Regions from separate parts of the Homo sapiens genome. Here regions 1, 2, 3, 4, 5 and 7 are each linked to region 6. The links come from fine-mapping of genetic effects on gene expression. A gene starts in region 6. Each other region holds a variant in brackets. All regions are shown on one strand. Distances are from middle to middle.

Region 1 (4,223 bases), 200 kb after region 6:
CACACCTGTCCTTCGGGACCTAGCTAAAATGACCCCTAGCTAAAATTAAGAAGCTCTCCTCACCACCTGAAAGCTCAATATGGGCCACTCATGTGAGATCCCTCATTACCCCCCTTCCACTCTCATGAACCACTTCTCACGCTGCTGAAATGGACTGTTTTCTCATCTGTCTCTCCTGCTTGACTGTAAGCTCCCTGGAGGTAGGGACTGCATTCACCAACTCCCCAGCACCCATCGCTGTCCCTAGGAATATGGTAACTGTTGACTTCCTGTTGAACTCCCTTTCTCATTCTCTGGGAAGAATCAAACCTTGTGGGGAATGGCAAGTGAAGGAGAAAGCAATCCAAACAGCAGGCTACTATGTTTATCCACTAGAATGACTCCACCGTCCCTCCATTCAACTTTCTCTCCACACAGTGATGGCAACAACTAGAACAGGAAAGGCAACGTGGAGGGGAAGCTCTTGATTTATTCGGGTACCCCAAATTCCTCATCTGTATTATCCCCCCTGAGGTGAAATTAAATAGGCCACCTACTATCGCACCATTTATTACACTTAATTTCCATGTGTTCTTCCTATAAGCATGAGGAGAGAGCTCCATTGCCAGGTAATAACTAGGAGTAACATATGCCTATTTCAGCCTTTACCAAAGTCTAAACTTGACTTGATCAAACATCCAGTGTTGACTCCTACTCTTACGGTCCAGAGAGTGAAAGCTTCCTTCAGTTCTGTTGGTGTCCTCTCCAGGATCCCATACATTTCTACATTATTTCCTTACGCTAATACCTTAACCAATGTCAGTGCTATTGACTAACCTCGATTCTTTCCTTTTCTCCAGTACAACATTTTCTCATTCTGATCAATAGTGTTTACTCAAGAATAAACATTCAATAATTATTTACTGAGTGAATGGACCTCAGACCATTAACAACTCATCATTTCTAACCACCTTGGCTTTATCCATCTGGAAGGCAAGATCCGTTTCCTATTTCACATTACTGTATAGGTAAATAAGTTAGTCCAGACCAGTGGCAGGTTGTGAAATTATGAGAACAAATAAATCATCTGGGTAATAATACACACATTAAGTTATAGAATCACAGTACTTTATTTCAATCATCCCTAAGAATAACATCTACTCTCCCTGTGTCACCCTGGTCTAACAATTACCACTGCTTGTAAAAAAAAAAAAAACCAGAGTAGACATGCTGCTACTTAAGCTGCATTCTTATGCTGATATATGCTTGTATATGCTGGCTATCCCAGCTGAAAGTGAGGATATCTCCTCCTAAACATCTATTTTAAAATTAATTTTAGTCCAATTTTTCTGACTTTTATTTGTTTGGTTTTAAACTGGAAGTGTCTGTAGTTACTGCAGGGGACATATTGTCAATTGGTGCTCAGGGAAGGCTCTCTGAGCAGGTGTCTTTTGAGGATGAGAGAAGCCAGCCACCGCTGGGGACAGAACATTTGGGAAAGCAAGAACTAGTGCAAAGCCCCTCGTCGAGGCTGGCAAACAGAAAGAGGGATGGTTCAGAAAATAGAACAAAACAAACAGAAATGAATAGACTAGAATCTTCCTACTCAAAGTTAACCATTTATTATCATTCCTTTCTATATCATCCCAATCAAATTACAGCATGCCTTTCTTCTTAGCACTGTCCAGCATTTTCCTTATTGCCATAGGTTGATAAGGTGTTGGTTACTTAACGATTCCC[CT/C]GTTGTTGGATCCTCTCTTGGGTTGATTGTGGTCTCCCTGAAACTTTCTTCTCCGCCATCCTCCAAAACAGTCCCTAGGCCCCGCTCATTTCAAACATTTCATTGAGGAACAACAAGGCACAGTCAATGAGTACCTTGTGGAGAAAAACAAAGGTCCTAGCATTTTCACAAAGTCCTCTGAGTTGGCCTGAGTTATCTGGGTTCCTGAGCCTGGAGCCCACACACTCCCTCTTTTATTCTGATGCCAACACCTTCCTCCAGTGAATAGGCCTGGAAATAAATCAGGACTGAGACAAATGATCCAACTGGCATAATGTCTGAGCACCCTCTGGTCAGCCACCCTCTGCCCCAGTGTCCCAAGGCCCTTCTGGAAGAGCCTGACTTCTCAAAAAACAGAGAAGGAGCCCAGTCCTAGAGAAGGGAATGATTACTGGGTTTAAGGGGCTTTGCTTTCCAAGAATACTTTTCCTGCCTTCCTTCTTTGCTATATGCAAACCTTAGCCCTGGTGCGGTGGCTCATACACCTCATGCATGCTACCTCTCCAGCATAAAAAGGACCAGCTTGTCCAGGGGGATGCAGCCCCATGCTCTGGCTGTAACTGTGAAGGGAGGCTGGAGAGTGAGTGGGCAAAGCCCCCACCTCACACTGAGACAAATGATCCAATTGGCATAATGTCTGAGCACCCTCTGGTCAGCCACCCTCTGCCCCAGTGTCCCAAGGCCCTTCTGGAAGAGCCTGACTTCTCAAAAAACAGAGAAGGAGCCCAGTCCTAGAGAAGGGAATGATTACTGGGTTTAAGGGGCTTTGCTTTCCAAGAATACTTTTCCTGCCTTCCTTCTTTGCTATATGCAAACCTTAGCCCTGGTGCGGTGGCTCATACACCTCATGCATGCTACCTCTCCAGCATAAAAAGGACCAGCTTGTCCAGGGGGATGCAGCCCCATGCTCTGGCTGTAACTGTGAAGGGAGGCTGGAGAGTGAGTGGGCAAAGCCCCCACCTCACACTGCCTTGGAGGAAGAAAGAAGCTATTCCAACCTGGCAGCTGTTATTTACACTTCTGAATAATGTGTGAAGGCGGGAGTGTAGAAACAGTAGCAGATGACTCCAGAGAATAGGAAAACGAGGCCTTTGACAAAGAGATGTACTATTTATGTGAAACCCAATGCCTCTGCTAAGAATATATCCCCAGCACCAAATGCTTGTTCCTGATACAAGAACTACACAGATAATAAAGTTATTTCCCATCTATCTTTCTCCCAGGCTGCTGGCCCAGGTGTTTACATCTAACAGTTAGCATCTCCATTTTCCAGGGCCTGATTTCAGTGTAATGCTACAGAAGGGGCTCGCTGTTCTAGTCCTAGATCCTTGCTAACTGATTATGCTAGATTCACTTTATTGGTAAAATGAAAGGCTAAGGGGATGAAATGAAATTATTCACGTCCACTTTGACATTTTATGAATAGAAAAAATCATTTAGCTGGTCGATGGCCTGGATGGGGGTTTCCTTCTCCAGCACTTGTGCTTAGAATTGTTTATAGCAGGCACATAACATGTGTTGAATGAATAACTTTACACACCAAACCGTTCAATTTGAATTTTTATAATTATGGAAATTTATTCACACTGTCTGAGAGCAACTAACACCACACGATGTAGGGGAAGTCCGCGCGACTCAGAATAAATATCAACTCTTACTTGCAGGTGAAGAAAACTAACTAGAATAAGCAAAGGAAACAAACACAGAATTCTTTTATTTTTAAAAAAAATTCATGTGGTTGTAATGTAGGAAGGATGTGGGAACGGTGTGGGAAGGGTGTGTGGGAGCCGCCCTTGGAAATCACTGCACCTGGCAGTGGAGTGCTGCCAGGACCCATTCGCCCCACACTTTGTGCTCCACTCCAAGCCTGGCGTTCTCTCCTGCCCACTGGTGGGCTGGAGAGCAGGGAAAGGGGCAAGAGCCTACCAGCTGGAAGTTCCATATTCACATCTTAACAGAGCTACAGAAGAAAAGCAGCTTCTATTCTGCCAGGTAAAGTGTGAACAATCTCAGGGAAAGACTGCAATTGGCCCACCTTGAACCCCATGCCACCCATTGGCCCATCTGTTCAAGGAGTGAGGATATGATTGGCTCAGCTCTGTCACGTGCCTGAGTAGTGGGCGGGGCTCCGTTCTACGGAAAGTGGAGTAGCACCGTGTGTCTGTTGGGGGAATTTGTGATTCAACAGGAAGAAATTGAACAGAGTGTTGCTTGCATTTGGCCTCAATTATAAATATGCAGTGGGGACTTGTCACAAAGTGCACATTGCAGTAACTTCAATGTTTGAAGATGCTTGTTAAAGCAGATTCTGTTCAGAATGATCCTGCCTGCTTCAGGATAGGATAAGAAGAAACTAATGCCTTAGACAGATAGAATTTTTAGGGAAGCAAAAGAATTCCCCTTTAAGGGAATAGTTTTACGTGTTGTAAGAAGTTTACTAGGCCACACTATATTTTCTATGAAA
Region 2 (4,223 bases), 100 kb after region 6:
GCATCCTATAAGGACAGGTCGAGGAGTTACAGTCTGCAAGTGCAGAGAGAGACTTTTCTTGATGAGCAAAGGTTCATTTGAGGCACTACTTTGGAACACTCCTTCTCAGTTCAATTTGGCACTTTCAGATATTCAGTGCCAATCTTCCAACCAAAGGATGTCCTCACAAATTTCTATAGATAAAACCATTATAGGAAATCAATGCGCTCCTGCATTTTCCAGTATAACACAGCCACAATGCCCCAGATATAGGCAGGGGAACCAAGAGGTAATGATTGGAGGTGGGGCAAGGGAGGACCCGTATTCCATTTGCAAAGTCACAAACACTGCTCAGAGTTCATGCAAATGGGCCCGCTAACATTAATTTGCTGGACAATTGTTTCCCAGTGTGAGCCTTAATTTCTTCATGTGTAAAATAAGGTCGTTGGAATAGATTTCTTATACATCTCTTTTAAAAAGAATATTCTGTGTTCTTTATTGACCATTCAACCAAATAAAAGCACTTTGTCTGAATGTTTTCCTCAGCCTTCTGCTCTTATTAGAAAGTTTTGGTTCGTATTGTAAGAAAAGAATGCCTTTGGTTTGCCTGGAGCCGAGTGACAGCTATGTATTATGGGTGAAATTTTGTTAATAGTGAAGAGGCCAAGGTTCTAGTTTGGCTGCAGCAAACAACTTGCCATGTGACTGTAGATTAATCATTTTGCTGTTCTGAGCCCAATTTTCCTGAACTGTAAAATAAGCTAGAGGATACAGAAGAAATTGGTAACCTTAGTTGCCCCTGTAGAGGGGTAAACTAATACCCGAAGATCCATTTTAGGAAATTTTGTGCTGAGTTTAGATAAGAGGTATACTAGATTGGATTGGTACTTTTCACTACACCCTATGCTCCTTTCATACCCGATGAATTTTACGCCGCACACATATGCCACCTATTCATTAAGTAAATAATTGTTTAAAATGAAAAATAAGTTCATAGGCCTGGGAGGTTTATATATTTCCTTCCAGAAACATAGCCCATAATTCTATATGCTTAGAATGGTTTATAGTGTTCCCTTTCTTTATCAGCCTCATGGTTAAATAAACAAGACATTAAATATTATAGATTCATAGAAAACTAGGTAAAATGACAAAGCAACCCATTCTAATTCAGGATATTAATAATTGTGAAAAGACCCAATTTTTCCCATCGGAATGAAGCATCTGTTCCTTATTACTGACAGTATAGGAGAGGGTGACGCTGTCATCTAATTGCATCTTCCTAATTGGGGAGAGCACTTGGAGGGGCAGCTGTGATGTGGCCAGCAAAAGAGCACAACTATCACAAAGGCAGCCAGCATGCCAGACAGGATGTTCACTGCAACTGGATGAAAATTGGTTTAGGTAATACAGTAAATTCCATCACCAGCTTAATTTAACAGGAAATGACTGCTATTGGGGACCTACAAAATATTCCTTGAAGATTTCCCATAGGTGTTTAAGCTTTAAATTGTGGAAAAAAATAAGATACATGTGAAATATATATATGTGTATATGTGTGTGTGTATATATATATATATATACATTCTCGTAGATGCATGTATATGAATAACAGCCCAGGATAAAGGAAAAATAAAATTATGAAAGTTGGCAGCAACCTCTCAGAAGCAATGATTTGCAAGTGCTTCAATCTAAATTATAATTTCCCAAGTCTATCACAATACATTTCCAGAAACATGTCCTGCCTTTTTAATGAAAATATATTGACAGGAATGTCACATCTATAC[G/A]ATAGTGTTTTATGTGTCTTTTGACCCCTGATGTCAAAGCATTCTCTTTATATTTGTCTTACTGATTTGTAACCCGAGAACAAGAAACATGCTGGTTGCTCATAATTAGCAATAGCAAAGAAATTTTCAGAATTCCAGAACTGATCATTTTATTTAATCACTTAAGGTATGCGGGAAGAAATAGTTGCAGAGATATTAGGTAACTCACCCGGGGTCACACAGGCATCCAGGGGAAAAACAGGAACTAGAGCCTGTTCAATTTATCTTGTGGTTCCCAAGAGCTCCCCATTTCTGGCAGGTGAATGTGTAAACTTTCTGGCTAGGGGAGGATAATTAGAGCCAGCAATAAAGGTAAATTCTTCCACAAAGGGGCTAGGCAATCAACAGAACTAGAGAATGCAAATGGAGGGCTTTATCCTGGGCAGTTCATGGTTCCACATTTCATCCTTTAAATCTTTTTATCTTTTTGAACAATGAAGAGATTCAGAGGAGCTTATTGGAAGGAGGTGGACAAGATGGTCGACTATATGCAGCCAGGCGGAACACCTGCCACCGAGGGACTGGGACGACTGGCACCCTCCTAACAGATTTTCAGCGGGGAGGCACTGAGAGTGGATGGAGGGAAGACACAGAAGCTACGCTGAAGTGGGAGGAAGCTGCTGCACAGAGCTACCATGCACTGGGACTAGCTCCTGGTCCCCAGTGACTCCAGGGGAACAGGTGAGTTAAACTGGCAAGGAACAACCTGCTCTCACCACAGGCCTCTGGAATCCCGGCAGGAGGAGACTCCTTGACCACCACAGACACTTGAGCTGGCAGGGAGAGTTGCTTGGAGAAGTGGTAGGGGCAGCACTTCAGCCTGGGTGGAGCCCAGAGGGTTTGGTGTGGGAGCATTTGCAATAAAGCATAGCCAGGGACAGCCATCCCTCTAGGCTCGACTTGCTCCCATGGCAGACTTTAACCCTAGGGGGACTGTTGAAACTAAATTCTTCAGGGTGGTCTTGCCTGTCAGATGAGGCCAGTTCAATAACCTGAGCACCCCTTGGTTTTCTGGTCTCTCCTGGAGCCCCAGACTGGCCGTGCCTGCTTGCAGTGCAGCCTTGGGTAGCCCTGGGGGCCCGCATCACAGCTCCTGTGCTGGCAAACCACACCATGTTTGCCAGTGCAGTAGCTGTGATGCGGGCCCCCAGGGCTACCCAAAGCAGAAAGCTCCAGCACAGCAGCCCCTATGGACATGCACCAGCCCAGCCACTTCCTTCCTCTACTGCAGTTTCCGCTGGGCCCATGGCCATCCCCCCCAATCACTGCTGGTGCACATGTGAGCAGGCAGATCTTGCCTTCTCTGCCCTGCCAGTGTGCATGTGTGCATGTGCCCTGCCCTGCCACTGCTGCTGGCATGAGTGAACTCAGCCTCCTCCTCCCCACACCATGCCATCATTGCAGTCAAAGCCTTGGCAGGCACAGAGTCCACCAGCCTCACCTTCACCAGTGCCTTGCCCCTGCACTAACACTGCTGCTGGAGTGAAACTAGGCAGGGAGAACAGTGGACTTACCACACCCTGAGCAGCCACCCTTGCCTGCAAAAACTCAGACAGAGGGTGCACGCAGACCAGCACCTGCCAGTCTCCCGCTCCCATGCTAACACCACTACCAGCGGGACAGCATGCGAAGTTGCCATTGGGCGTGAGGGGCCCACCTTCCCATGTCATGCTGCCTCCACTGCTGCTGCCAATGCCCACATGGAGGCTGGCACCTGGGCACCCCCTAGCACCCTGCCATAGCCAATGAGCATGCACCCTGCTGCGCTGCCACTGCCACTACCACTGGCACATGTGAATGAGGACAGATTCCACTGCCACTGCCCTACAAAATGCTTTGGCTGGCACCACCCATTGGAGTGTTGTGACCAGCAGTCAGGGAGCACCTTGGCTGCACCCAGCACAGTGGGTTCCTAACCTTGAGGAGCCAGAGAACGAAGTTGGGCCTGATACCAATCCCCTAGGGTTAGGGTATGCAGTCTAGGAGTTGGAAGCCTAGCTTTGGCTCCCTGAAATTTTCCAGAAATGAAGCCAGTCATTTGAACTCATCTTATAACACAAGCAAACCCTCAAGGTCATCAAATAGGATACAAGAGAAAAAAAAACCATCCCAAGGACAGCAACTTCAAAGACTGAAGGAACATCAGTCTGCAAACATGAGAAAGACCCAGAGCAAGAACTCTGAAAACACAAAAAACTAGAGTACCTTCTTTCTCCAAATGACCACACTAGCTCTCCAGCCAGGGTTCTGAACCCGCACATGTACCCCTAAACTTAAAAGATTTTTAAAAAAGAGATTCAGAGAAGGACTGTAGCTGTGGACCCAAGCTCCCTTCAAAGCACTGGCAGGTCAATCGTTTGCAACGCAGACAGCTGTATGTAGAGCTCTGTGATCCACCCAATTATTGGCTCATCAAGGAGT
Region 3 (4,223 bases), 73 kb before region 6:
CAGGATAACAATGTCTACCTCACAGAATTCATGTGGAGATTACATGAGACAAGTCAGGAAAAACACCAAGCTTAATAAATGGTGCAGAGTAGACATTCAATCAATATTTGTTGAATAAGTGAATGTATTTATATATATATATTTCACTGTATATATTTACTCACTAGCTCTGGAGGGGGTTCATCTAGCTAGTTCTGCTTGGAAGACAAGAATTTTTCATCAGTTTTAGCTGAAACATTCCAATTTAGGAAACTGGGTCAAGCCATATCACTGTGCATTAATTATAAGTTGTGATTCCAGCAACCTGTAGAAAGATGAGAAAATGGTCCAGTACCTTCAGTTTTTCACAGCAACAAATGTACCTTTGACAGTTCCATGATCACCACCCCTTCCAATTGCTTGGGCCTTCATTGCTTACAAAGAGCTGCTCACACCCATGATCACATGTAACTCACCTTCAAGGATGATCGCGTTATTCCATTTTGTAGATGAGAAAATTAAGGCTCCAAGAGGTGAAAGAGCTTGCTTAGATCATGCCTGGTGGTTGGTGGCAGAGAAGCTGGAATCTGTGGGATGTGCCTAAATTGATTATCGCTAGAGCATGTGCTTGGTTACTTTGTTAAAGGCATAAAGGATGAATTCAAGGAGGATCCTGCCTGGTGTTACCTGCCTCTGGCTCCCCTGAACCCCTCAGGTAGAGGTTCTGAGGGTCCCATCTATATATTACAGCCTATCCCTGTTCCAGAGCCAATTTGGAAGGAGACAGAGGTGAGAAGCAGCCTCAATCCTGTAGACTTATGGGGCCACAGGAACTATTTCTGTAATATCATTGCATCCTGGGACCTGATAGCCCAGCCAGGATGCTGTCATCTACTTGGAAGCCATGGAGATGTGACCAGGGAACTTGGGTCAAGTCCAGCTCAGGGATGGTGGTGTTTATCTGGAGTGACAAGATGTTACACAGGTGAGGAAAAAAACCTACTATTGATTTTTTTGTGAAGAGACGAAGACTGAGTGGTTGTGGCCGTGTTGGTGACCTTGAGCAGCAGTTGGCTTCTCCATGTAGAACCCGGGAGTAGGAGACTCAGAATCGAATCTCTTCTCCCTCCCCCTCCTGTTTTCAGCTTTGTGAGAAACCTTATCAGCAAACACAATGGCCAGCAACGTTACCAACAAGACAAATCCTTGCTCCATGAACTCCCATGTGTTCATTGGGAATCTCAACACTCTTGTGGTCAAGAAATCTGATGTGGAGGCAATCTTTTCGAAGTATGGCAAAATGGGCTGTGCTGTTCATAAGGGCTTTGCCTTTGTTCAATATTTTAGTGAGAGAAATGCCCGGGCTGCTGGAGCAGGAGAGGATGATAGAATGATTGCTGGCCAGGTTTTAGATATTAACCTGGCTGCAGAGCCAAAAGTGAACCGTGGAAAAGCAGGCGTGAAACGATCTGCAGTGGAGATGTATAGCTCCTCTTTTCACTTGGGCTATGACTATCAAGGTGATTATGATGACACGATGTACAGTTACTCAGCACGTGTGCCTCCTCCTCCTCCTATTGCTTGGGCTGTAGTGCTCTCAAAACGTCAGCGTGTATCAGGAAACACCTCATGAAGGGGCAAAAGTGGCCTCAATTCTAAGAGTGGACAGCAGGGATCTTCCAAGTCTGGAAAGTTGAGAGGAGATGACCTTCAGGCCATTATGAAGGAGTTGACCCAGATAAAACAAAAAGTGGATTCTCTCCTGGAAAACCTGGAAAAAATTGAAAAGGAACAGAGCAAACACGCAGTAGAGATGAGGAATGATAAGTCAGAAGAGGAGCAGAGCAGCAGCTCCGTGAAAAAGATGAGACTAATGTGAAGA[T/A]GGAGTCTGAGGGGCGTGCAGATGACTGTGCTGAGAAGGGGGACCTACTGGATGATGATGATAATGAGGATGGGGGGATGACCAGCTGGAGTTGATCAAGGATGATGAAAAAGAGGCTGAGGAAGGAGAGGATGACAGAGACAGCACCAATGGCATGGATGACTCTTAAGCACATAGTGGGGTTTAGAAATCTTATTCCATTATTTCTTTACCTAGGCACTTGTCTAAGATCAAATTTTTCACCAGAGCCTCTCACCTAGTATCTTTGGCACATGCTCACTGTCCTTCCCATCCTTGTCCTTCCCATGTTTATTAATTCATATTGCCCTGCGCCTAGTCCCATTTTCACTTCCTTTGGCACTCTTAGTAGTTTTGTTAAGTCTTACCTTGTAATATTTGCTTTTAATTTTGATACCTCTTTATGACTTAATAAAAAGGATGTATGGTTTTTATCAACTGTCTCCAAAATAATCTCTTGTTATGCAGGGAGGACAGTTCTTTTCATTCATACATAAGTTCAGTAGTTGCTTCCCTGACTGCAAAGGCAAGCTTATTTAGTTGAGTAGCTCCTGAAAGCAGCTTTGATTAGAAGTATGTGTGTTACACCCCCACATTAGTGTGCTGTGTGGGGCAGTTCAACACAAATGTAACAATGTATTTTTGTGAATGAGAGTTGGCATGTCAAATGCATCCTCTAGAAAAATAATGAGTGTTATAGTCTTAAGATTTGTTTTCTAAAGTTGATACTGTGTGTTATTTTTGTGAACAGCTTGATGTTTGGGAACTTTTTTTCCTCAAAATAAACAGGTCCTTATTAAACCAGGAATTTGGAGGAAAAAAAAACCCTGTTTTTTAAATTTTTGTATTTTATTATTGTTTACTTCAAACTCTTTGTTTTACAGAGTCCTCCACAAAACCCCCAGAACGTACTAGATATATTTTTCTTGAAGTCATAATCATTATGCATACCAACATAACACTACTCAAATTCTATTTCATTGAGATGCATGTTGCATTGAGGAGTCAAATAACTTGACAGAGAGTGGAGATTGTTTTTCAAAATGGCTTTTACATCCTAATGAAAGTTTGGGAAGTATAGCCTCTCTGCCTTTTCATCAGTGCTTTGTGGTCCAGCTGGCACCCTTTTTGAAGTTTTTGTTGTGTGCTAAATTGTTTTGTCTTTAAATAGGAGAGGCTCAAAAACATTAAGATTTCAGGAAAATTGCAACAGCTGGAAAATGGAACCCCTGCTTTCTTCTATTTTGTCTTTTTAATTACTATTTATAGCCACAGTTACCTTCTGAATTCTGAAGTGTTACCTCAATGTTACTGAAAACAAGAAAATTCTTATTTCCTGATATTCCATAGTCTGCCTTCCCAGGTGATTGAGAACATAGAGAATGTTACACATTTATTTTACCCTAAATAATCTTTTACTCATATTAGCTAATCTTTGTGTTTTCTCTCAACTTTATTAATTGCAGTGATTGCATTTTTAGCATCCAGTCTTCTTAAGATGAATACATTAAATAGCTACCAGTGTTGTGATACCTCATCCTTGAAAGGCCTAGTTCATTTGTGTTTTATGCTTCAGTTTTTCCAGCACAGCAGAAAATGGCATTTATAATTTTTGTGCACACAAACCTTGGATTCCCCTATAAAGTTTCTATTGTTTCATAGCATGCAGCACTGGTATTTTTTCATCCTACCGCGTTACAGGCAAAACTCATGTCTTATTTATAAGGATTTTATAGATCATTTTATATAACAGGTGAAAAAAGCAGAATAGAAAGAAGAGGCTGAACTATGGACTACCCTTGGAGCCCAGATACATGATATCAAGGCACTTTCTTTTGTATGTTAATCGGTTAATAATACTACCCACTTGATGTTTTCTGATCTGATGTGATCTCATGTTACACAAACTTTTAGTAAGTAACCCATGACTAGAATATAAACTGGTTACTTAGGAAAAACAAAAAACAAACAAACAAAAACCCTACTATTTATTCAGTGCCTCCTATGTGCTGCCCCTGCATTATCCATAATCCCCATGGCATCTTGCGATACTATTACTATTATTCCCTTTGTATTGATGATGGAACGGAAGATTGGAGAGTGACATCTTACACAGCATCTCAAAGCTGGCAGTGGTCCAACCGTTCAAATCCAGGTCTGTGTACTATGATCCCATACTTTTCTCATCAAGGGGACTAAGGGACTCCTGTAACAAGGCTAACTCTAGTGTCCTCTTCCTGGGGAGAGCTCAGTCACAGACTTTGATCACTACTGCTACTGGGAAGGTAGGAATTAAGCACAATGCTCTGTTTGGATCCAGTAATTGAATTATACTCAACTATTG
Region 4 (4,223 bases), 51 kb before region 6:
CTAATTCTTACTGGTGGTGATATAGGAATTAAAAAGAAATTAGGAAGATAGTGAGGGTATGGGAGTCCTCGGTAAGGTTTTCCTTTTAATGAAAAGCAGCCCCCAAATCATTTTCTTTTTAAGAAAGAACAGCCTGTAAAATCAAGCTGCAGACATAGACAAGCAAGCTAGAAGCTTGCACAGGTGAATGCCCACAGTTGTGCCAATAGGAAGAAACTACCTGGGAATAGGCATGATGATCAAAATGGCGGCTCCATCTTCTCTTTTCCTTGCCAACCACGTGTACAGCAAGGAGCAGACAAGATGGCAGTTGACTAAGTAGAAAGTCCATTTGCATAATAAGATTGTGGGGGCGACCAGCCTTACCCACACACCATGTAAACGTCACACCTGGTCAAACCAATCTGTGGGCCCTATGTAAATCAGACACCGCCTTCTCAAGCCTGCCTATAAAATCTGCTGCAGTCTGCCGCTTTTCCCCCTTTCAGAAGTCTCTCTCTCTCTCGCACGAGATATAGCTGCTCTCCTCTCTCTTTTCTTTTGCCTATTAAACTTTCTGCTCTTTAACCCACTCCATGTGTGTGTTTCTGTGTCGTCTCGTTAATCTTCTCGGCATGAGATGACGAACTCCAGGTATTTACCCCAGACAATGATGCCACTTCAGTGGCATATGGAATAAGTACTCATTTTTGTGCATTTATTGTGTAAAATTATTGATATATCTTTTAGTTGCTTTTCCATGGAGTGTGTTGGGTTTTCAAGGTGGGTAATAACATTATCTGCAAATATTCATAATCTCTAACATTTTAATATTCATGTCTTTCCTTTTTCTTGCCTTGCTCATTCCATCTTAGTTTTCAGATCCAGATTACAGCATCTTGAAGGCAAGTAACTTCGGTGTCTTATGCATGCACTGTCATCTGTCAGGTCATGGGGACCACTGTAGGCAATGGTTCAGAAGCAGTGGGTCTTGTGTTTGGATCCCACGGGGAGGGCCACACCCAGGCTGGCCCAAGGCTACATCAGTCTCTATTACTGTTCAGTGAAGCCATATGTGAAGCCAGGAGACTGCTGTGTCAAATCTAAGAAACCCAAGTAAGGATGGAAACAGGAAAGTAAACAGCAAGGATGGAGACCAGAGGGCTTGTAAACAAGAAAGAATGGATGTGACCAGTGGGTAAACAGGTATACGTGAGGTGGGTAAGAACCTGATAATGTGAAAGGTGAGGGTTTCTCTCTTGTATGTGTGCCTGGCCACGCCTGGCTGAGACATCATGACTACACATGGGCCATTTTTGTGCCTGCCTTGACACTACTGTAAATGAAAGAAAGTGTGAGTAAAGGCCTTGGGAAATGAAGGTCAGTTATCAGTTAGGCAGTGTCCAGGGAGCAAAGCAGGAGGCAATGGGGACTGGCCATCAGGTCCTCTTCATTTAGTGTTCCAAGAGCTTCTTTAATTTTAGAGAGTTTGGCTTTGGTGCCTCCATGCTCGACCTGGTCCTGTGAACGTCCCCCGCCTTCACTAAATCTGTGAGAGAAGTTCTTGGGCCCTAGGCTCCTGCTGCAGAGATGGCTCTCCTAGTGCCCCAGCCTCAGCAGCACCCCCAACTGAGCCTGTTTCCAGAAAAAGGGCCTCATCCATCACACTGTTGTTGATCTTCTGTCTGACATGTTGCAGCATTTCCCAAAAGGGGTTTTCTAGAAACCCTGCATAGATTTGGTTTTTCTGTTATTTCAAAATAATCTGGGATATGACTTGTTAAGGTTAAAAAGTTAATTCCTGGACCCTACCCAGGATACACAGAATCAGAATATTTAGACACAGAAATGTACATTTTCAGTAAGCTATCCAGGTTATTCTTGTGGGCATTAAGTTTGCAAATCGCTTTTTTTTAAGGCAGTGGTTCTCAAAGTGTGGTCCCTGCATCAGCATCACCTGGGAACTTGTTAGAAATGGAAATTGTTAGGCCTCATCAACCTCCTGAGTTAACAACTCTGGGTTTGAGGCCCAGTATTCTGAGTTTTGAGAAGCCTCCAGGGGATTCCGACGCACATTCAAGTGTGAGAACCACTGGATTAAGGCAAGGGTTCTCAACCCAGTCTGCCCATGAGAATATTGTTA[G/GA]AAAAAAAAAAAAAAGAAAAAAGAGAATATTGTTAGAAAAGTCCCTAGGACCTTTTAAAAATTGGCAATGCTCAAGAAATTCTGGTTTAATTGATCCAGTGGAGCCTAGGCATTTTTTTGCATATGTGTGTTTTATTTGTTTATGTATTTATTTTATGGACTCTAGTTTTTAGAGAAGTTTTAGGTTCACTGCAAAATTAAGCAGACGGTACAGAGATATCCTGTATACTCCCATCCTTACAAGTGTACAGCCTCCCCATTATCAATACCCCCTGCCCAGAGGGTAAATTTAAAATGATATTTTTAAAAATAAAGTGTATAAATGATAAAGCTGTAGTGACAAATCATTATCACCCAAGACCACAGTTTACATTAGAGTTCACTCTTGGTTTTGTGCATTCTGTGGGTTTAGACAAATGTAGAGTGACATGCATCTGCTGTTATTGTATCATATAGAGTGGTTTTCCGCCCTGAAAATCCTCTGTGCTATGTATGCCTAGTCATCCCTCCCTCCCCACTATTGCCTGAAACCACTGATCTTTTTGAGCCCGAGCGATGATTTTAATATGCAGCGGGAGATGAAAAGGATGGTTTAGGACAGTGGTTCTCAGGGAATGATTTTGTAGCCCAAGGGATGCTTGGCAAAATCTGGAGATGTTTTTAGTTATCACAATGGTTGGGGAAGAGGCGGTGGTGGCTGCTACAGGCATCTAGTGGGGAGAAGCCAAGGATGCTGCTAAACATACAGAATAGCCCCAACAACAAAGAGTTACCTACGTGGAGATGTCAGTAGTGCCAAAGTTGAGATACCCTTGCCCCGGGGAACAGTCATACTCAAGAATCTCAGCTTCTAGACTTAGTAAAACAAAGTATATATTTGCTGGTATCCTCTCATTCTCAGAAGCAAAAGACATTACATCTAGCTTAATCATCCCTGCCTACATGATAGCATATACAGATATGCTTACACAAAATAACATTTGCATTCATAAAAGGCATCCCCAATATACATGTAAACACACACATGCAGATGAGTGTACATGTTGCCCACACGTGCATACATGCTGATACTCATATTTACTAAACCACACATACATACACAGCCACACACCCCACCACAACTCACAATCATTAAAACATGCACATATACATACACATGCACACACTGTCTATCCCATTTATTAAATGACAAGCACCCCAGGGCCACCCAATGTTCTCCTGCCTTCTCTGGCCCCATTCTCCCTTCATCCTACCTGAATGACTGTCTTCAGAGGCCTGGATGTTGGGCTTGACACAGTGGAGGCTTCCCATGCCAAGGTCAAGGCTGCATGTCCATGGGGTGCTGACCAACCAAGCAGGGTGCAAGGGGGCTCTACTGGGCAAGGTGCTTGGGAGCTGCGTGAGAGAGCAGTGAGAAGGGACCTCAGGTCCAAGACATGCCAGGAACCTGGGAGGGATGAGGGCAGGGAGAGAAAAAGGAGCCAAACTGATGCTCAGCTAGCTCAGGGGAGGAGAGTGAGAAAGGGAGGACTAGGGAGAGGCTGGGGCTGTGCTGAGGCCCTCGACGGAGCACACTGTCATCTCTGTCTGTATCTGTTGTCTTCTCAGCTGTTAACGGTCCACTTGACGCTATTTTAGACACTTCCATGTACATCTTTAAAAACCGTACTGAAAAGAGTACTTGTTTTTGGAGACAGGTAGGTTAAGTTTGAATCGTGGATCTGCTACTTGCTGGCTGTGTAATCATGGGCAAATTTCCCAAGCTCTCTTATCTTTCGGTCTCTTATATGAGAATTGGGCATAGCAATACCTATTCTAAAAGATTTTGTAAGGATTAAGTAGGAGGAAATATATAAATTGCTGATAAATTACCAGGCATGGAATATGCCCCTAGCAGTACTAGATCCTTTCTCTTACCCTCTCTTTAGGTACTTTGCATGTATTAATGCATGTTTATTCCTAGAATAAAGCCTTTTTATGCTCTGTTGAATTGGAAAACACTTCCAGAAGCAGGATAACTGGGTCAAAGGATATGGTCACGTTGATGATCTTTCATATTTATTGTTAATTCGTTTTCAAATACTATTTCTGGATATTTTTT
Region 5 (4,134 bases), 22 kb after region 6:
CTACATATCTATAGCTATATTAGTACATTCTCACATTGATACAAATAAATACCCAATACTTGGTAATTCATAAGAAAAAAGGTTTAATTGGCTCACAGTTCTGCAGGCTGTACAGGAAGCATAGTAGCATCTGTTTCTGGGGAGGCCTAAGGGAGCTTTTACTCATGAAGCCAACACTTCACATGGTGAAAGCAGGAGTATGAGACCAAGAGGGGAGGTGCCACACACTTTTAAACAACCAGATTGTGAGGACAGCACCAAGAGGTGCTAAACCATTCATGATAAATCTGCCCCCATGATCTAATCACTTCCCAGCAGGCCCCACCTCCAACATTGGGGATTACAGTTTGACATGAGATTTGGTGGGGACATAAACCCAAACCATAACACAGTGAACTGATTTTTGACAAAAATGCTGAGAACCTTCATTGGGAGGACAGTCTTTTCAATAAATGGTGCTGAAAAAACTGAAAATCCACATGCAGAAGAATGAAAGTAGACCCTTATCTTTCACCCAACACAAAAATCCACTCAAAATGATCAAAGACCTAAATGTAAGACCCCAAATGTTAAAACTATTAGAAGAAAACAAAGGAAAAACACTTCAGGACATTGGTCTGGGAAATGATTTTATAAATAAGACCTCAAAAGAACAGGCAAAAGAAGCAAAAAAAAAAAAAAAAAAAGGATAATATCAAACTAAAAAGTCTACACAGCAAAAGACACAGAGTGAAGAGACAATCTGAAGAACAGGAGAAAATATTTTCGAAGTATTCATCAGATAAAGGATTAATATCCAGACTGTACAAGGAACTCAAACATATCAAAGATAAAAAATAAATCCAATTAAACAATGGACAAACAATCTGAATGAATATTTCTCAAAAGAAGACATATAAATGGCCGACAAAATATATGAAAATATGCTCAACATCACTAATTATCAGAGAAATGCAAATCAAAACCACAACAAGGTATCATCTCACCCCAGTTAGGATGGCTATTTTGAAAAAGACAAAAAATAACAAATACTGGTGAGGATGCAGAGAAAAGGGAACTCTTATACACTGTGGAAGCTGAGGTGGGAGGATTGCTTGAACCTGGGAGACGGAGGCTGCTGTGTGCTATGATTGTACCACTGCACTCCAGCCTGGGTAAGAAAGCAAGACCTTGTCTCAAAAATAAATAAATACATAAATAAGAAAGAAAAGGATGAAAAAGACTTTCCAGGGAAATAACCAAATGAAAAGTGAGGCAATAGCCGTAGCATCTGACAAAATAGAATTCAAGGCAAACTATCGTACTGAACAGGAAGATTACATACTGATGTTAAAGGAACCAATGGAGGGAATGATAGAGCAGGTAGATACCGCCATCATCAATGGATAGAATTAATAACTGTATTAATTGAGAGCAGCAGACAGGATTGCCCATCAGGCTCCAAGGGAGACAATCCTGTACAGCTGCTTCAAAACTCTCAGATGTGGTGATGCCTCGCTCACACAGGCCATCTGGCCAATGCGAAACTCTTCAGCCTGGTGAGGTGGATGAGTTAAAAGTGGGAGTAGAGGGCAATTGGGGCACATTCAAGCTATTATTTTACCAGAATCTTCCTCCCACTAAGACATGTTAAAGACTTGGTTTTTCTCTTAAGGGCAACCCTCCAGCAATAGTCCCATAGTTTATTGCCATCAGGAAGATGTTGCCTTCTGAGAGGCTTGGCCAGTATGCTGGGGCAAGGCGGGCTGCTTTCCAGACAAGGTAAAACCGGCAGGCCCATTCTCGCTTATCATTCAGCTGTAAGTGTCTCATGGTGGCCTCCTTCCAGGCCCACGGACCTACCTGGTTGTGATTTCCCATGGATTAATATCTCCCTCCTGGAGCACAGCTGGGTGACATTCTGAACAAAAGTCATCTGATCTAGTGTTTATGATGTATTCTGGGCTTCCATATTGTATGATGTGGGACATGGAGTCTAGCAATTTAACTTCGTCA[T/C]TTCCAAACTTTCAGGCTCACCTCCTCTCCAGCCTTAGGGAAAAACATAGCTGAGGTGAAGCCTGTGGCCACTTTATTCCCAGTCTGTGCAGGAATGAATGGCCCCTGACTGCCCAGTGTTCCATCTCGCCTGGTTTGCTTCCTCTGTGCTTTGACATTTGCATAAATCCTTCTCTTGCACTCCATTCTGACTGCCTGCTTGCAGTGGGACAGTCTTTAAACTCTGTGTATTCTAGGACATTCATCTCCAAAGAACCAAAAGTCGGAGTGCATCTGTGCTAGGACTTTACCTGGTACAGGTCTACTGGGGAGACCATTCCCCTGTGACATTTATTTAAGCAAAATTGTAAGAATGCTGATAGAACATTCTTGGTCAAACTCATAGGCAAGCAAAATCTAACACAGTTGAATGACAGGATATGGAGCAAGTTTGGGGAGAACCTGTTTTTCCAGCTCTGGTGGCAGTGACAGACTAGAATGTTGTTAACTCCTCCCTGCTCACCACCAAACTGCAAACTGGAACTTTTAGGTTATGTAGAAAGCAACTGTCTTTTTCCTAATATAACGCTAGACATAAGCGTTTGTATGCCCTCAAAACTACTGAGCCATTATAATTCTGGAGATGCTAACATAGTTTAAGGCTATTTTCCTTCTGCAGGTTTGTGTTTTTCAGTTCAATATTTGACCATAGGAAGAAATAGTCTTCAGATATGGCTTCTGCACCAGTAACTACTTTTACACTTTTGATCACATCCTGGAGAAATCGTTCAAGAACTTGATAAGACTTTCACATGTTTTGTTGGGCTATTTTCAGCTTTCAGTAGTGCACAGGAAACAGTAATGGCTTGGCTACCTTTTTTCAATATAGACTCCTGGTGGCTGAGGCCCCCACACCCTTTGTTTAAAGCTACTGTGAGAATTAGAATTAGTAGGAAAGAGTCCTCAAATGACAATATAATATTTCAAACTAAGTAAAACAGGGCTGTACTCAGGTAGATTCTCCTTCAAACATGGTTTGAATCAAAACCAACTTTATTAATATATATGCACTCACCTCAGCTCTAAGAAATTGGGGAAAACATATCCTCCTAAGCATTTGTGGTTTGATAAGATTATCACAAATCCAGAGTAGCCTCACAGACCATAGCAAATTAGTAGAACTTAATTTGCTATTAGCTAATAGCAAATTAATAGAACTAATAGCTTAAGAGTAACTGTTCTAAACTAATTATCTTGGGCTTCTGAAGTAAAAAGGAAGATCCCTGTCTTCCCCCGACATCCAGTTCCTTAAAATCAACCCAAGCAAATAAGAGTAAAATAGAATTTAAATTACTGAAACCAGGAAAGAGCCATAGTCAAAAATCACTAGCTATGAAGAGTGGCTGTCAAATGCAGTGATATTTGAACTAAAGGGAAGGAGAGGACTAGAACAGTCCTAGAGGGTTAAGACTTTCCTAAAAGAAGAAGGTTTTGGTCCTGAATGGCCAAATGGTGGAGCTTGGAATGGCAGCATCTAGGGGCCATGTGTGAGCAGCAGGGGTGACCCCTTCTCTTTTCCTCATTTCAGAGTGGCAGGGCAGGTGGGGTCAGAGGAGAAGCTTTTCAGGCAGGTGTGCAGGAGATGTGGCAGGTGAAGGAAGGGTCGGGGGGAGCTTTATAGCCCCAAATCTCAGGAGAACTGATGAGAAAGGATGTGGAGAAGGCACCTCTGACTCGCAGCTTGCTTCTGCCTCAACTTCTCCCCACACAGTGTGACTCTTCAGCAAATCAGTGACCTGGATCACAAAAGGAAAAGTGACAATTCAAGACCAGGATCACGGCAAAGTAACAAATAGAAGGCACGCAGGAAATGTATTTCGGAAGAATTACTCCAGGAAGTCAAACAGTGCACACATTTTTTCCCTCATAGTCTTAGAAAAAGGAAAAAAATTAAAAAAGGCAACAAGACTTCAGAGAAGGTTACAAGAAATTGTAGAAGGGGTTATAATACAACAAAAGAGATGAAAAGGAGCTGTCCAGTCTCAGGGAATATGTGGAAGAGGAAACATCATTTCAGAAATGATAGTTAACTTTAAGATGCCAAAATGAGAACAGGCACTGCACTGCTGAAATCAAGGGAGGGACACTAAAGAAAGGCTT
Region 6 (4,223 bases):
GAATCATCTCTGTTGTTGCTAAGTGGTTGGTTGTTCACCTGCATCTGTTCGAATATTTTCGGGTATGAAAAATGTACTATCCTTGTCCATTCTATTTTTGGAAATCTCTGGTTCCAGAAAATCATTTATTGTGTGAGCTGAAATGTGCCTCAGTGTCAGATTCATGCTTTGGTCCAAGGTTTGCCCTATGGAACATGTAGGACAAGTGTTCCCTGAGGTATGGGTAGAGGCAGTGTGTTTAGTGGGAAGCTGGTAGTCTTCAGAATTAAGCAGATCTGGGTTCACTTTCTGGCTTAGCCATTGACAAGCTGAGTGAGTCTGGATACTATAGAAGATGGCTTAACAGCCATAATTCCTTCCATCCCAGTATGACCCTCCTTTGCAATGTGACTTTGCAACTCCTCAAATCCAGAGGTAGATTCCATTTTTCCACCTCCTTGAATCTGGGCTGGCCTTTGAACTTGCTTTGGTCAACAGAATGTGGAGAAAGTCATACTGGAAAAGGTCTGAAGCTTAGGTCTCAGGGGCCTTGCTCCTTCTGCCTAGTTCCTCTTGGGATGCTGCCCTGAACCTGCCATATAAGGAAGTAATCTAGCCTATTAGATGTAAGAGGATGCTTGGAGGAGAACCGAGGTGTCCCAGCCAACAGCCTGCATGCTCTGACTAGAGCTTCTTCAATGTCAGCTCCTCCCCTGAACTTATGCAGGTGTTTTCTTGGAACTTAAATGTAAGACTTAACATTTAATCCGGAGGAATTTATTTTGATTTTTAGAGATGGGGTCTCCCTTTGTCATCCATGCTGGAGTGCAGTAGTGCAATCACAGTTCACTGTAGCCTCAGACACCTGGTGTCAAGCAATCCTCCCACCTCAGCATCCCAAGTAGCTGGGACTACAGACCCACACCACCATGCCTGGTTAATTTTTGTTTGTTTGTTTTTGTAGAAACGAGGTTTCACTATGTTGCCCAGGCTAGATTCGAACTCCTGGCTTCAAACAATCCTCCTGCCTCAGCCTCCCCAAATACTGGGATACAGGCATGAGCTATGGTGCCCAGCCCGAAATTTCTTTTTGTTAGTCTTAGCAGAGCACTCCACCTGTGCCAGGGCAATCGTGTTTTTTTTTTGTTTGTTTGTTTTGTTTTTTTGAGACGCAGTCTTGCTCTGTCGCCAGGTTGCAAACTCCACCTCCCAGGTTCAAGCAATACCCCTGCCTCCCTGCCTCAGCCTCCCGAGTAGCTGGGACTACAGGCACGCACCACCACCCCCAGCTAATTTTTGTATTTTTAGTCGAGAAGGGGTTTCACCACATTGGCCAGGATGATCTCGATCTCTTGACCTCGTGATCCACCCGCCTCAGCCTCCCAAAGTGCTGGGATTACAGGCGTGAGCCACCACTCCCGGCCAATTGTGGTTTTATATCTGTCATTTATTTCTCCACTTAGTTCATCTAGATCAGATGATTATTACTTCCATGTTTTCTATCAGTTCCTAAAAAAAAAAAAAACGTGAAATAGGACCGTGCCAGGGAAGGAAGCTTAAGGGACACTACTAAACACCTCTTCCATGCCTGTCACTGAGCCAGTCAATATTATTAACTATGTTATGCATGCATGTTATTTCCAAGCCTACAGATTGCTTTCACACATTAGCGTGTTCATCCATAGTGAATGTGGCCAGCGGAAATCTATATGGGCAGTAACATTCTTTCCTGAAGTCAAGATATACCACGTCTAGTAATGCTCTCCTGAATAAGTTATTTATTGAGTATCGACATCACAATCTACGTCTTTTCTCTTTGTTTATTGGATCACAGTGAATATAAAACTATACCTATAGTTACGATTATACAAAAGAATCTTAAGTCAGTGGTCATGGGTAAGACAGTAAACCAATTTATCTGCTTTCAGAGCTTTTAAGAAGTCAAAGTGCAAAAATGACAGTTTTGTGCAAAAAGAATTTTCAACGAGCCTGACAGCCAAAATATACCTGAAGTCGCTGCGAGACTTTACTTGGATTTTCATGAGATCGTTTGTGTGTGAGCACGCTCGTGTTTTTCCCAGAGCAGGTGTAATGATGGGTCTTTACTTACTCTCCCCACTCCCCACCCCCTTCGCACACTCTTTCACCTTGGGAAGGGTATGGGAATGAAGAAAGGAGTGTTAATCGGGTTCCCAGCGTTCCCTTATCTTTCACCTAGCTCCCTAACTACTGTGGATGTTAGGTTTGGGCACACCCATTTCAAGACAAGGAGACTGGTTCTCGAGGGAAGTGTGAGACTGAAGTTACAGAGCCTGTCAAAAGCGGAGCCTTATAGAGGGAGTAAAATCCCACGTGCTTCGTGCTGCAGCAGCTGGAGGGTGGACCTGGGTCGACCTGGGGGGATGCTCAGCCCTGCGGGTCCGGGAGCGCGCAGAACAGCGGGGAGGGCTTCTCCCTCTTCTGGGTAGGGGCGCGCTAGGTGGAGCCCCACCTCCCCTCCGCGGAGACCCACCCTCCGAGCCGGGAGAGGCGTTGCGGGGGGGTGGGGGGGGCGTGTCCCCTGGCGCAGCGCGGCCAGCGCGCACGCGCAGCGGGCGGAAGGTGCCCGGGCCCACTTTGAGCGCGCGGCTGCGCACTGAGCCGCCGGCCCTCCCGGAAGCGCAGAGCTCCGCTGGTGCCACGTCTATCCCCTTACATCCTCCTAGGACCCGGTCGGTAGTCGTCGCCCCAGCCCGCCGGGGGCGCAGCGCCCGAGCCGCGGCCCTCGAGACGGGACCGAGAGCATCATGGGCAGCACTGTCCCGCGCTCCGCCTCCGTGCTGCTTCTGCTGCTGCTCCTGCGCCGGGCCGAGCAGCCCTGCGGGGCCGAGCTCACCTTCGAGCTGCCGGACAACGCCAAGCAGTGCTTCCACGAGGAGGTGGAGCAGGGCGTGAAGTTCTCCCTGGATTACCAGGTGAGGCCGGGCGCCCGGCAGCGCTCCCTTCTCCCTCCACTCCCAGGTCTCACCTGGACACTGGCTAGCCCCTGACTGGAGGCGCTCGAATTAGCCACAGGCTACAGGGAGGCTGCATGGGGTGGGAGTCCCCGGAGACCAGTTGACTTCCCCGTGAGGAGGAAGGTTTGGGTCATCAGGGCCCACCCGAGACGAGCCTGGCCAGCGAGGAGGTAGTCAGCGCCGCAGGTGCGAGCCCGGGATGGGGACGCCAGGGCGGATCCCGCAGCCTGGGGAGCTGGCCAAAGAGATATCCGCAGGCCCCCGAGACACTAACCAACGGCAGTTCTGATCGGCTGGACACAGGCTCTCTAACCCCAGTCTCTTAGACCACCTTGTGCCTTCGAGTACTGAAAAATGGCAGCAAGAGGAAGTGGGCTCATAGTTTTAGTTTATTCCTCCCCTCTCCAGCGTTTAAAGTTGGAGTGAGGTGAGGGCAGCAGAAGTGAGAATGGGCACTTTGGAAAGGAGGGATCAGTGCAGCCATTGAGGCCTGGCGGTGTTTACAAGGAGCGGTGTGGCTGCAAGACTTGGCTCTTGCCATATGGCTTAGAAAAGCTCAGTTCCTGTATTCCTGTCTCCTTTGAGAGATCCCGTGGCCCACAGGTGACAGGAGCAGGTCTTGAGTGAGTAGTCTGCCCCGATATTTAGTGAGCAGGTCTAGGGTTGGGGGCCAAGTGGGCATCATACTCAGACAGCTATCTGCTTGTGGACGCATGCTGATAGGCACTTCAGAAATGAGGGGCCACGGGCAGCAGGAATGGGGGCAAGCTATTTGACCAGTTCCTCTGTGGTTAGAGGCACTGAAGGAAGCTTGCGCTTGGAGACAACTTCTATGTGGTAGTCTCAGTCACTGATTTGTCCACTTTCAGGTCTTTGTGGACAACATGCAAATTGTGACTGGGTTAACATGGGCAACCTAGGTGCAATGACAAAAAGAATGATAATTCTGTGGTTGCAGGGACCTCAGATGTCATCTGGTCACTGCCAGGGCGGAAATCCCTTGTCAAAGTGTGTCCAGCCTGGGTTTAAACACACTTAGCAACAGGATACTCACTGCTTTTTGCAAAGCTTGCTGAGCAGGACTAGTAACTTTTGTCCGGACAAAGAGGCCATTTAAATTTGGAAGCAGATGGAGGCCATTGACCGTGTCCTTTGATGGATCTTGGTTATAGCCATTGCCTACCTGTGAGATTTTGCTTTATGTGGGTCTTATTTTTCTTATGTTACAAGGAGAGTTTGAACTAAATG
Region 7 (4,223 bases), 520 kb after region 6:
TGTGCCTTTGTCAGAAGCACTTGCTAGCACAACAAATCAGTCTTTTTTTTCTGGAAATTCTGGTTCAGTACATCTAGGATAGGACCAGAAAAATCAACATTTTTAAACAACAGACTAAGGTGGTTCTTATGATGTGGCAAGGAGTTGATTTTGTCCAGTGCATCTTACATTCAAATCACCCAAAGAGATTAAAAACCACTATCAGGGAGTTCCATTTCTGCCTTTGATAGGCTAATATATTCAGATCAACTCTACTACCAAGAACAAATAGAAATGCCCTGTTTGAACGCATCAGAGAGCTATCAAATGTGGTGAGGTCTTACGGCACCAAGATCTCAGAGAGAAAGAAAGCACAGAACTGAACCTGATATTTGGCACAGCTTTTTGCCTCAAAGCATTTGTTGATTCTTAAGAAAAACTTAAAAGCTGAGAAGTTGTGCTTTGTAGAAACTGATCAGTGAAGAAGCCAAGAGGAGAAATGAAGTAGAAACTGGCAGCCAGGAGTCTACAAAGCTAAGCAGAGCTTTGCTGCCCCACCATCCTGGGGAAACAAAAATAGTGCAGCCATCACCAAAAAGGAGCGGCCCTGGTATGCAACCCAAGCTTTCAGAAGGAACTCCTGAAGCCTGGGAATAAGGACTAACCCAAATAAGCCAGTATTCACAAAAACTAAAGACTGGCTTCAAATCTGCTCAATCCCAGACTGGATTATAACAATCTGCCCCTATCTTGACTTCCAAAAGCAGAAAGAAGTAAATGCTCTAAGGGGAAAATAGCATCATCCAGAGGCTCAAATTCTCTCTTCAGTTTTTCATACACAATGCCTGACATTCAATAAAAAGTTACAAAAACAAGACCAGGTGTGGTGGCGCTCATGTCTGTAATACCAGCAGTTTGGGAGGCGAGGCGGGCAGATCACGAGGCCAGGAGATCAAGACCATCCTGGATAACGTGGTGAAACCCCGTCTCTACTAAAAATACAAAAAAAAAAAAAATTAGCCAGGAGTGGTGGCATGTGCCTGTAGGCCCAGATACTTGGGAGGCTGAGGCAGGAAAATCGCTTGAATGCAGGAGGTGGAGGTTGCAGTGAGCCAAGAGATCACGCCACTGCACTCCAGCCTGGGCAACAGAGTGAGACTCCATCTCAAAAAAAAAAAACAAACTTTTTTTAAATAAATGAATTATGAAGCATATTGGGAGATGTGCAAGGCCAGAAACCAAGAGAAAAAATAGACATAGAAAGAAAAAGCTCTAAGGAGACTCTGATGTTGGAATGATCACACAAAGACTTTCAAAATAACTGATTAATATGTCCAAGAAATTAATTTTAGCAAAGAGTTAAAATCTATTTTAAAAAATCAAATGAAAATTCTAGAACTGAAAAATACAATAATTAAAACTAAGAACTAAATAGATGGGTTTAATAGCAAACTAGACACAGCTGATAAAAAGATTAGTGAATTCAGAGATAGGTCAATAGAAAATATCCACACTGAAAGAATGAGAGGAAAAAATGAATGGAAAATACAGGTGGTAGTAGAGGGGCATGTATGGGACATAATGGGACATGGCAAGCAGGTCCAACATACATGTACTTGGAGTCCTGGAGAGGAAAACAACAAATGGGTCAGAAACAATTTTTACAGACATGATGACTGAGAATTTTCCAACACTGACAAAAGGTATCAAATCA[C/T]AGATTCTAGAAGTGTTATGAACCCTAGAGGAGTTCAAAGAAAACCACATTTAGGCACATGTAGTAAAACTGCTAAAAAACAAAAACAAATGGGAAAATCTTAAAAACAACCAAAGTTAAAAAGTAAATCAATTTTTAATTTATTAATCCATTATTTACTTTCATTATGTATTAATGGTCAATTATATCAGAATCTCTGAGAGTTAGGCCAGGGCATGGGGCAAGTGGAGAGGGCTTTTTACAAATATACATTCTAGAGCACCATTAGAGATTGTGATTGAGCCAACTTGGGGCAAGGCCCATGAATCAACATTTTCAGCCATCAACAATGGAGTTGATTCTGATGTAGAAGTTCACAAACTACACTTCCTCAAACGTAGCTCTGTCCTTATCCCTTTATAACTAAGGAAACAGAGGCCCATCCAGGTAAGACTGAGGTCAGCTCAAGGTTATACTGTGAATCAATGGCAGGGCCACAGATAGCACATTGTACAGTCACATGGCAATTCCAAGAAGCAACTCTTCTAACCTGGTACCTACAGGCATCCTAGTCCACAGCAAGGAAGGCAGGGGTCCCAAGTGCCTGTAAGGATTCTTAGCCACAGGAAAGATATCAGGAAGGGATTGAAAATACTTGCTCACCTCTACAGGACAGGCATGTGTGAGGCACTTTTACAAATTCCTTTTGATTCCAAAAGTGGGCCCAACTCTATACCATTTATCCAACTTACTATACTGTATTAAATGCTTGATCCATTATCTCTTTTAACCTTTACCACAAACCTATGAGGTAGATATTATTATCATTCCTCATTTTATAGAGGCACAGAGAAGTTAAGTGACATATACAGGGTCACACAGATAAGTGGGGGAGTCAGGAAATGAACCTATTTAGAGTATACATTACTCCTCCGTTCTACTGCCCAAACCTGACTCCCCTATCCCCACCCACCCACCAATTCTCACACACTTACCCTGCAGGTCAAAGGGTGGCTTCTTTAACATCTCCGGCTCTAGACTGTTTTTGGTGATGGGATAAGCCCAATGGAGCAAAAGGAGAACAGGAACTGGAACTGGACCCCTAGGTAATCACCCTAGCACCGCCACTCCACTCTGTGGATTCACCAAAGTTCCTTCCCTCCTGTGGAGGTCAATTTCTTCATTTGGAAAAGAGGGTTTTCATACCTATCTCATGATTGTGGTGAGATTAAATACCTTTGAAAGCCTTTCACTACTCCAAATGTGAGCTCCAGAGTGTGGCTGACATGGGAGGGGATAAGTGTGGGCTCTACTGTTCTTGGAAAGACCTAGGCACTGTGTCCCATAGTGGCTGGCTGCACCGTGGACGGCTCCCGAGAAGCTGGGAGGCTCAGTCTACAGAGTGACGCTGTGCTGCCGGCCCGCAGTGTGCCGCAGTGTTCATTTCCGCGAGAGCCTACGCCTTTACGAGGTGAGCTCATGCTCTGTCCACTATCCGCACAGCCGACAATTCCCACGTTATTAAATGGCTCACCTGGCTGCACTTATTTTATAAAATAGCATGAGCAGCCATGCAGTTATCTATAGGTTTTTCAGTAAACTTGGAAATCTGATCATCTCAGTCTCTGAAATTTCCCTTCTGGTGGCTGATGTTGATGAGATTTTTTTTTCCTACTTTTATCTAGGCTTTAATAAAAGGCTGATAGATTAAATGGTATGAAAAAAATGCTTTTTTACAAGTGATAATAATACAGACAGGGGTAATTCTGCGCAAAACTGTCAAGAGAATAAAATGAGGTATGGAACTCTCCCCTCTCCTTTTGTTACCTTTCATCTCCATGGCGGTTGGGGGCTGTGACCCACCTTCACCCCTGCTGCAGCTGCCCTGAGCTCAGCATCCTCAGGTGATTTTCTATGATATTTGGAAATCTTTTATAGCCCCTTTGCCCCTAGAAGAAAACTCCTATTGTGCTGCCTTCTACCAAATAACATGTTGGGGGTTTAGTAATCACATGACAAAGATCTTTCCTCTGCAGACAGGCCTATATCCCTGGGGTTCAAGGGGAAGGATTAGAGAGGAAAAGAGGGGAAGGTCGAGGCGGAGGTCAGGGATGAGCAATAAGAAGAGAGGAGGAAGAAGAGACAGAAGGATAAAGGGAGACAGGAAGAGGAAGATGGGTATGGAGGGGGAGAAGGGGGATGTGTAGTGGTTGGAACATCTGCAGAGACTGAAAAAGCAAGAAATGTAACAACTTGGTGAAGACACAAAGGCTTGTAAGGAAACCAAGAGAAAAGCCAGGTTTGGGGAAAATGTCAGAGTCCAACAGAATAGACTAGCCAGCTGGGGATGGGTTGAGTCTTGGGGCTTCATAACCAGAGAGAATTAAGCCTAAAGGGCATGCCTAAGCTAACAGAGACCCCATTGGGCCCAGCCTTCCTTGGAAGGAGCTGATTACTGCAGACCTGACCTGAAGGGCTGAGCTAAAGCAGCTGCTCTTGCCCTGGCCCAGGGTGTCCTGGTGGGAGGCAAGGTGAGGCCTTTGTGGCAGCC

Alleles and levels. Alleles are on the strand shown, and positions count from the first base shown. SD is a standard deviation of normalised expression in the study named. Not every link is listed here.
In carriers of allele G in region 4, the expression in monocytes of the gene that starts at base 2,628 in region 6 tends to be lower than with GA alone (moderate effect, 0.75 SD a copy in Fairfax 2014).

The links.
Region 1: its variant is fine-mapped to the expression of TMED3 in whole blood (INTERVAL, PIP above 0.99).
Region 2: its variant is fine-mapped to the expression of TMED3 in whole blood (INTERVAL, PIP above 0.99).
Region 3: its variant is fine-mapped to the expression of TMED3 in whole blood (INTERVAL, PIP above 0.99).
Region 4: its variant is fine-mapped to the expression of TMED3 in monocytes (Fairfax 2014, PIP 0.92).
Region 5: its variant is fine-mapped to the expression of TMED3 in whole blood (INTERVAL, PIP above 0.99).
Region 7: its variant is fine-mapped to the expression of TMED3 in whole blood (INTERVAL, PIP above 0.99).

Annotation. Positions count from the first base shown.
Region 1 is chr15:79,510,286-79,514,508 of GRCh38, forward strand. All of the region lies in intron 2 of LOC105370919 (a long non-coding RNA gene), which reads left to right. Among named protein-coding and RNA genes, the nearest start is that of MINAR1, 80 kb to the left of the region's middle. The variant CT/C (reference allele first, on the strand shown) is at 1,720.
Region 2 is chr15:79,409,158-79,413,380 of GRCh38, forward strand. It overlaps a transcript of TMED3 not described here and a transcript of MINAR1 not described here. Among named protein-coding and RNA genes, the nearest start is that of MINAR1, 21 kb to the right of the region's middle. The variant G/A (reference allele first, on the strand shown) is at 1,764.
Region 3 is chr15:79,235,179-79,239,401 of GRCh38, forward strand. The region is part of intron 1 of ANKRD34C-AS1 (ANKRD34C antisense RNA 1); the gene reads right to left. It also overlaps the pseudogene HNRNPCP3. Among named protein-coding and RNA genes, the nearest start is that of MIR184, 28 kb to the left of the region's middle. The variant T/A (reference allele first, on the strand shown) is at 1,862.
Region 4 is chr15:79,257,330-79,261,552 of GRCh38, forward strand. The region is part of intron 1 of ANKRD34C-AS1 (ANKRD34C antisense RNA 1); the gene reads right to left. Among named protein-coding and RNA genes, the nearest start is that of ANKRD34C, 23 kb to the right of the region's middle. The variant G/GA (reference allele first, on the strand shown) is at 2,123.
Region 5 is chr15:79,330,876-79,335,009 of GRCh38, forward strand. It overlaps a transcript of TMED3 not described here. Among named protein-coding and RNA genes, the nearest start is that of TMED3, 22 kb to the left of the region's middle. The variant T/C (reference allele first, on the strand shown) is at 1,996.
Region 6 is chr15:79,308,485-79,312,707 of GRCh38, forward strand. It overlaps TMED3 (transmembrane p24 trafficking protein 3), which reads left to right and starts at 2,628. Exons shown (of 3, transcript NM_007364.4): 1 at 2,628-2,933. The coding sequence starts at 2,766. RefSeq lists silencers at 2,472-2,521, 2,732-2,801.
Region 7 is chr15:79,827,068-79,831,290 of GRCh38, forward strand. It overlaps LOC124903536 (a long non-coding RNA gene), which reads right to left. Exons shown (of 2, transcript XR_007064730.1): 2 at 1-4,223. Among named protein-coding and RNA genes, the nearest start is that of MTHFS, 68 kb to the right of the region's middle. The variant C/T (reference allele first, on the strand shown) is at 1,694.